3 separate regions of the Homo sapiens genome follow, and regions 1 and 3 are each linked to region 2. Evidence: fine-mapped expression QTL. A gene starts in region 2. Each other region holds a variant in brackets. All regions are shown on one strand. Distances are from middle to middle.

Evidence for each region. PIP is the estimated chance that this variant, and not a neighbour inherited with it, causes the effect.
Region 1: its variant is fine-mapped to the expression of TRIM6 in whole blood (INTERVAL, PIP above 0.99).
Region 3: its variant is fine-mapped to the expression of TRIM6 in whole blood (TOPMed, PIP above 0.99).

Annotation. Positions count from the first base shown.
Region 1 is chr11:5,621,317-5,624,082 of GRCh38, reverse strand. All of the region lies in intron 7 of TRIM6-TRIM34 (TRIM6-TRIM34 readthrough), which reads right to left. It also overlaps a transcript of TRIM5 not described here and a transcript of TRIM34 not described here. Among named protein-coding and RNA genes, the nearest start is that of TRIM34, 2.3 kb to the left of the region's middle. RefSeq lists an enhancer at 2,042-2,650. The variant G/A (reference allele first, on the strand shown) is at 1,211.
Region 2 is chr11:5,595,176-5,597,941 of GRCh38, reverse strand. TRIM6 (tripartite motif containing 6) reads right to left here and starts at 1,305. Exons shown (of 8, transcript NM_001003818.3): 1 at 1,028-1,305. The coding sequence starts at 1,044. TRIM6-TRIM34 (TRIM6-TRIM34 readthrough) reads right to left here and starts at 1,305. Exons shown (of 14, transcript NM_001003819.4): 1 at 1,028-1,305. The coding sequence starts at 1,044. It also overlaps a transcript of TRIM5 not described here. RefSeq lists enhancers at 1,321-1,370, 617-1,534, 1,689-1,983.
Region 3 is chr11:5,563,328-5,566,093 of GRCh38, reverse strand. No RefSeq gene overlaps it. Among named protein-coding and RNA genes, the nearest start is that of OR52B6, 16 kb to the left of the region's middle. The variant A/G (reference allele first, on the strand shown) is at 1,243.

The DNA.
Region 1 (2,766 bases), 26 kb before region 2:
TGAACAAGAGTTGCCACTCGTTTGGTCACAGGATGACCCCACATTGTGCCTCCACAAACAGCATGCTCCATTTTCATGAGGAATATAAGTTGATAGATTCATTTTCTGTGCTGTATGCATCAAAACAATCCTAGTCTACCTCCTGTAGAGCACATTACATAATAAAAGGTGCCACCTTTGGAAACCACCTGACAAGGTACAATTTTCATTTTTGCCCTCTCCATCTGACTCATGCATGGTGATCAAGGACAATTATAAACTTGTTGGAAGTTTAACAACTTTCCCACAAAAATGTATCCACATCCAATACCTTGGGAATATGCTTTGACTACTTTTAAGGGAGTCAATTACTATCAGGTTAGTGCAAAAGTAATTGCGGCTTTTGAAATTAAAAGTATTATAAAGCCAACTGTGGTGGCTCACACCTGTAATCCCAGAACTTTGGGAGGTTGAGGCGGGCGGATCACAAGGTCAGGAGTTCGAGACCACCCTGGCTAACATGGTGAAACCCCCGTCTCTACTAAAATTACAAAAAAAAAAAAAAAAAATTAGCCGGGCATGGTGGCATGCGCCTGTAATCCCAGCTACTCAGGAGGCTGAGGCAGGAGAATTGCTTGAACCCGGGAGGCGGAGGTTGCAGTGAGCCGAGATCGCACCACTGCACTCCAGCCTGGGTGTCAGAGCAAGACTCTGTCTCAAAAAATAAAAAAATAAAAATAAACAAAATAAATAAAAGTATTATAATAGCAAGAACCGCAATTACTTTTGTACCAACCTAATACTTTCAGATTTCTTTTCCTTATTTCAATATTGGTAACTAATACATTTAGATAGTGTAAAAGGGAAGAAAATCTCGGGACCCAAAAATCACTAAGCCAAAGGGAAAAGTCAGGTTGAGAACTGGTTAGGGCAAACCTGGCTCCCATTCTATTCCAAAAAAAGACAGCTACTAAGATAAAAAAAAAAAAAAAAAAAAAGCTCCAGACAGAACTCAAAGTCACCCCTTTGCTCAGGTGAGATAAATGAATATCTGGTTACTTCCTTTGCCCTATTGCTTAATGCAACCTGTTTGTCTTTTATCTACCTATGACCTGGAAACCCCCTTCCGGACTCAGCTGTCCCGCCTTTGCGGACATATATTGATTGATGTCTCACATCTCCCTCAAATGTATAAAACCAAGCTGTGCCCTGACCACCTTGGGTACATGTT[G/A]TCAGGACCTCCTGAGGCTGTCATGGGTGCATCCTTAACCTTGGCAAAATAAACTTCCTAAATTGATTGAGAGTTTTCTCAGATACTCTTTCATTTACAATAGTAAAGCATCAGACAGATTTGTTAAAGCATGTGTTGAGATGTGTATATTACCTTAGCCCATCAGTTCTGTGTGGATGACATTCAATTTTTCATCATTCATTTTGTTCACTTGAGTTTTTTCCGGTTTTTTTTATTTGTTTGTTTGTTTTTTTGAGATGGAGTTTCGTTCTTGTCGCCCAGACTGGAGTGCAATGGCATGATCTTGGCTCACCGCAACCTCCGCCTCCCAGGTTCGATTCTCCTACCTCAGCCTCCTGAGTAGCTGGGATTACAGGCATGCGCCACCACGTCCAGCTAATTTTTCTTTTTTTCTTTTTTTTTTTTTTGAGAGGTAGTCTCGCTCTGTCGCCCAGGCTGGAGTGCAGTGGCGTGATCTCGGCTCACTACAAGCTCCGCCTGCCGGGTTCACGCCATTCTCCTTCCTCAGCCTCCCAAGTAGCCGGGACTACAGGCACCTGCCACAACGCCCGGCTAATTTTTTGTATTTTTAATAGAGGCAGGGTTTCACCATGTTGGCCAGGATGGTCTCAAACTCTTGACCTCATGATCTGCTTGCCTCGGCCTCCCGAAGTCCTGGGATTACAGGTGTGAGCCACCGCGCCCAGCTGAGTTTTTTCCTTTTTAAAAAACTCATTTCTCTGAGTTCAATGGACATGCAACTATGCTATGTCTTTAATGTCTTTTTGTTATTTTCTTAACAACTGTCTAGTCTGAACCCCGAAAATCTGAGACAGATCTCAGATAATATAGAAAGTTTATTTTACCAAGGCTGAAGACATGTGTCCCTGACAGCCTCAGGAGGTCCTGACAACATGTGCCCAAGGTGATCAGAGCACAACTTGGTTGTATACATTTTAGAGAGACATGAGACATCAATCAATAAATGTGAGATGTACATTGGTTCCATCTGAAAAGGCAGGACAACTCAAGCAGGGAGGGGGCTTCCAGGTCACAGGTTGGTGAAGGACAACCTGTTGCATTCTTTTGAGTTTCTGATTAGCCTTTTCAAAGGAGTCAATCAGATAGGCATTTATGTCAGTGAGCAGAGGGATGACTTTGAATAGAATGGGAGGCAGGTTTGCCCTAAGCAGTTCCCAGCTTGACTTTTCTATTTGGCCTAGTGATTTTGAAGCTCCAAGATTTATTTTCCTTTCATACTACCAACATATAATATATTAATGGTAGAAAAATCATCACTTTTGGAAACTCTTAGGCATTCTTCTGGTGCCTCACTCTCAGCTGAGCTGTGCTTCTGGATAGCAGAAATGACCTGGACAGAAAAATGAGCAAGTTTAGTCATTCAAGAATATGCAGCTATTTCCATGGGCATGTACTTAGAGCTCTATGTAAACAGGAGTGGCTAACAAGAGTTGGCAAGGGTCATATCCTCAAGGCTTGTTTACACAGGCAGAGAGAGCCAGCTGGGAAATTATCTAGAGACACCAGTGCAGGAG
Region 2 (2,766 bases):
AATCTGCACTTTAATATTAAAGTTCTCTAGGTGATTCTTACGCACATTAAGGCTTCAGAAGCACTGCCTTAGATAAAGGACCTTCTTTCCCAGGTGGATACAATTTAGGGTGCAAAACAGCTAGAAGAGGGAGGGGGACAGAGAATGGCCTGCTATTTAGATACGAAGCATCTTTTAGAATGGAAGCTTGCATCGATATCAAAATGGCTTTCAGAATAAAAATCAGTGACTCAGCAGGGGATACTGGGGCTGGTGTAGGCTGGGGGTTCAGAGTTAGGAATGACAGAGCGGGCCCGTCCACCAGCTGGGAGCCCTAGTGAAAGTGGAATAAAATAGGTGGCAGTTGCATTTATAAGTGAGTTGGGCATGAGTTCTTGCACTTTAGGAATAACATTTTTTTTTATCTTTGTGTAGGGTTATATTTAACCTATTATCTGCAATTGATTATCTAACAGGACTCAATAAATATTTGAATTGGAACATAATCAGTTTCAAAACAAAAAATTTAATTTCCACTTCAAAAGAATTTCTACCCCCTGCATTTCAGAAACCTATAATTTAAAAATTGTTTTGATTGTGCATTTTTTTAAAGCTAGGCATGGAGTTTGCCAGTAATAATGACCATAATTTGTGTCAGGCAGCCTCCTACGTGTTTAAATCTGTCTCACTCAATCCTCACCAAAACTCTAAGATATACATATTACTCCGTCCATCTTATAGATGGAAGAAACTAAAGCTCAAAGAAGTCAAGTTAACAGTCTTCGGGCACACAGCCAGTGTCTGTCAGAGTCAGGATTTGAACACATGCAGTCTGGCTGCGGCATCTATGCTCCTAACCACACATTTCTGTCTCTATTGACTGACTGATTAAAATGTCTCTAACCTCAGTGGGGTCATTTGCAGTGAGAAAGAAAAAGAAATAAAGATATAATGAGTTCCGAAAGGGAAAGGACCTTATCTCTTTCACTGCCCTGTCACCTCTGCCAGAAGTGACAATAAGAGCCAGTCAACAGAACGGTAGACATACCTCTCTGACCCGCACATCTGGGGAATGAGAAGCCAAGAAGTTCCAGATGTAAGCAATATCAGGTGGTCAAAGCTCTTCAGAGCAATCCAAGGCACCTTAAACTAATCTTAAGGAACAGAGCGCGCTCACTCGGCTTTTATCTAAACTCAACCACGCACGACTCTGCTCCGTTCCGTTCCGAGAAAGGCAGGGGATCCCTCCTCCGCCAGCCTTTGGCCGTTGAACGGACGGACCCACAGGTCAGGAGTTTGCGGAAGGCTCATCTCCCAACTCCTTCTGGGAGGAGTCGGGCCGCCTGGGGTGGGGGATAAACGGTGCTCACTTCCTGGAGCGGCCAGGCTGGAGATGGGGGAGGGGAAGGGGGAAGGGGGAAGGGGGAAGGGGGAAGGGGGGAAGGGGAGAACGGGGGAAGGGGGGAAGGGATGCTGACTCTGAATCCACGCCTGACAAAATGGTTTGCAGTGATTCCCTAAAGCAGTTTCCAGAGCTGCCTCCTCTACATACTTCAGCTTGTAGAATAGAGGTTTAACTCTCTTTACACGGCCTATTCCCAGCTGCAAAGGTGCCTCTTCTGTGCTCCCTTCCCAAACTTGAGTTCACTTGAAAATGCAGAAGTCTCCCTCATTCTTCTTTCACCCGTGAACCACCCCCAACCCGACCTGCAGAGCGGGTCAAACTCTCCAGACAAGTGGGGACAGCGGTAGCTGGCCAGAAAATAAACTTGCTCACTAACCTGGAATCTGTGGCCTGGATCAGAGCCAAGGACTTGAAGCAGCCGCGTCCTCCACCCAGGCCGAAAGACTCAGGGGGGAAGGGGCGGGGCCTGGGGAGGAGGAGGGTCAAATTGTCCAGCCCCGCAGGAGATCCAGCCGATTCCATGGGTGTGGTCACCAGTGACCCCTCAGGTGGTAAGGGAGATGGAGATGGTTTCTGAGGCCAGGCGCGGTGGTTCACCCCTGTAATCCCAGCACTTTGGGAGGCCGAGGCGGGCGGATAACGAGGTCAGGAGATTGAGACCATCCCGGCCAACATGATGAAACCCTGTCTCTACTAAAAATACAGAAATTAGCTGGGCGCGCCTGTGGTCCTAGCTACTCGGGAGGCTGAGGCAGGAGAATCGCTTGAACCCGGGAGGTGGAGGTTGCACTCCAGCCTGGAGACAGAGCGAGACTCTCTCTCAAAAAAAAAAAAAAAGAATTTTTGAAGGTAGCAACGCAAAGCTGTTCATCTTACCTGATGAACGGCAAATCCGGAGGCCTTTGAGAACACCAGGCCAGAGATGACCCTTGTAAATTGTCTGCAGTGTACTGTAGCTTTCTAATATCATATCAGAGTTTAATTACACTGATAATACACCTGTACTCCATATAGACGTATTAATTAAAATGTCTAAATAAACATATAAAGTTATACGAGTAAAAGCCCCTTTGCATAATGGCATGTTTTGCCAAACGATCATTAAAATTCATCAGTTTAAAATTACACGTATGTATGTATAAAGCTGTGTGTGTGTATCTGTAATTTTGACCTATATAACTAGAAGACAATCTTTGTTTTTATTTAGGTCTGATGAATACATGTAAAGCTTATTGAGCCTCAGAACTCTAACTACAGGGTTTCAATAGCACAGAAACTCTGAGAAGAAAAAGAATGTCAAAGTTCCTCCCTAAGGAGACTGATTAGGTGAGTATCACCTTGCCTTAGAAGGTGGCTTGGGGAGGGAGGTATAGAGAGAGAAG
Region 3 (2,766 bases), 32 kb after region 2:
TTTTCTCTCCTTATTTGCTTCATGATCCACAAATCATCTTGAATTCTCTCTTACTAAACAGTATAAAATTTAACTAGTTTTCCATGTCAAAGTCTATTTTTCTTATTTATTTTAATTATTTAATTATTTAAAAATATGTTTATTATTTATTATGTTTTCTAAATATGCTTTGAATTTATCCACACACTTCACATTAAAATATGATCACTATTGTCTCTCTCTCCCAAGTTTTCCATACCCTAATTTAGGAATTTGCTACCTCCAGTCTTTTTTTCTCTCCCATCCACTTGCTACTCAGAAAATATCATGGTCTTACTAAACTCAAACCTAGATCGACTCACTCTTCTACTTTAAATCATTCAACAGTAGATCTATTTGCTTTGAATACAATCCAAATTTCCTAACGTGTATGTTTTCAAAGCCTTTTATAGTATTTCGATGCCAACCAGTCATTGTCTGGTGTCCACTAGCCCCAACCTCCTTCTTTTCTCTTACTCTTACATGCCCTTATGTTACAATCATACCATATTTCTTTTAGTTTTTCAAACAAAGTATGTTTTCTTTCCACTTGGACCTTTATACATGCTATTCCCTCTGGAAAATGAAGCTTAGCTTGAACTTGGGTAACAAGGAGGAGAAGAGGAAATGATTTTGTAATCTTTTTCCATAAAATACTTTGTCCTACTTCACATCCACTAGGACAGTGATATATATATATATTTCATAGATATGTTTCATATATATATATTTCATATATATATGAAAAGGAAAATAACAAGTGAGGATGAGGAGAAATTAGAACCCTGATACATTGGTAGTGGGAATGTAAAATGGTGCAGCCTCTATGGAAAACAGTTTGGGTGTTCCTCAAAAAGTTAAATGTAGAAATACCATTTGACCTAGCAATTCTACTCCTAGGTATATACCCAAGAGAACTGAAACAGGTGTTCACATAAAAACTTGTAAATGGTTGCTTATAAGACCATTATTCATAGTAGCAAAAATAGAAGTAAAAATAAGTAAAATATATATCAACTGATGAATGTGGTATAATTATACAATAAAATATATTCAGCCACAAAAAGGAATAAAGTTTCAATACATGCTGAAATATGAATGAATCTTGAAAATATGTTAAGTGAAAGGAATCAGACAGAAATGGCTGACATGTTGCATAATTTCATTTACATTAAATGTCTAGAAGAGATACATTTGTAGAGACAGGAAGTACGTTAATGCAGG[A/G]AAAGGAAGTGGAGAGTGACTAGTTAGTGAATATGGGTTTTCTTTTTGGGGTGATAAAAAGGCCTGAAATTAGACTTTGGTGATGGTTACACAACATTAGAAATGTACTAAAAGCTACTAAATTACATACTTTAAAGTGGAGAATTTTATGTCATGTGAATCTTACCTTAATAAAAGTTAAACAATATGCTCATTATCATGCAAGAAATATATGATGATATATAGAAAATAAGTCAATTTCATTCCAAAATTTTTGTTCTTACCTACTCACTATTCTACCTCAGAATGAGTCAGGATTTCTGTAGCCCAGAGACTTCATTATCACATCCTTTTTGAGTTACATCATTCTAATCCCAGTGTGTCAGGTCTAACTAGAGTCACAAGAGTCATGTGCTAGAGGCTGCTCCCACTGGCTCATGAGAGCCACATGTTAACTTTCAGGACTTTTGCAAGCAGGTCAACATCAAATTGGTAGCTTGAAGTCAGCTATAGTGGAAATATCTACATTTTCTCAATCAGCTGCTCTACAATCAAGCCCCAAGAATTGGCTGTTAAGCATTCATCAGCTTACCACTGGCCATAGTCCTCTTGAAGCCCAATTCACAAGCCTGAGTGTGGCTCAGGCCACGACTGCAGGCCTTATAAGGCTGCACTTGAGCTTCAACCGCTTCACTGGCTCTTTTCTTTTGAACTCTGATTTTTATGTCCCCTTGGTTAGTTTTACCCCAACGACCTTTCATATTCCTAAACTTGATCGTATTTTTGAGAGTAGTTTGATAACACATTATTTTATTGTGATTTAGATATAACTTTTTAAGTATATAGCTTTGTATTACTATAGGGAGTGAAGAAGAAAGGAGAGTGGGAAGAAGATTCAGGAATTAGCATAGGGACAATGGTCACTCAAAATATACAGGGTTGAATTATGTGAAAGTTGAAGATCATTTACATTAGAAGTTTGCACTGAATTATATTGTGTTTTGAAGATTCATTTTATCAATTTCATCTTGAAGGAACACACAAATTATTCTGGACAAGATACACTGTTATTATTCAATTATAAAGACAATAATAACTGTGTGGTCCCCCACAGCTGATTCTTGCTCCTGAGACAATGCAATGAAGGCCAGGTCAAATGTCCTATGGCATGCTATATGCGCATCATAAGCAAAGAATGAAGAAATATATATTTTCTTTGCTCACGAAAGCCAGAGAGACTATTCCCTAGACCCACCCCCATACACATACCTCCCTCCTTCCCAGAATGTTTCCTTAGATATTACCAGGGTATAAATTTTCCAGAAAAAAATAAGACCTTTCTCACAAGCTTCACAACCCCGAAATGTCTCCACACTTCTGAAGTTAGGTAAATCCCTCTGGAGTTCTCTCAATGTCTGTGTAGTTGTAAATTCAATGTCCGAGGCTTGCTGTTAGCCAAGCATCCCAAGTTTTTGGCAAAATTAATCCAAACATCCCCAACACAGGACAAACACAAAAGTAATTCCTCTACTCCCTACAAGATGC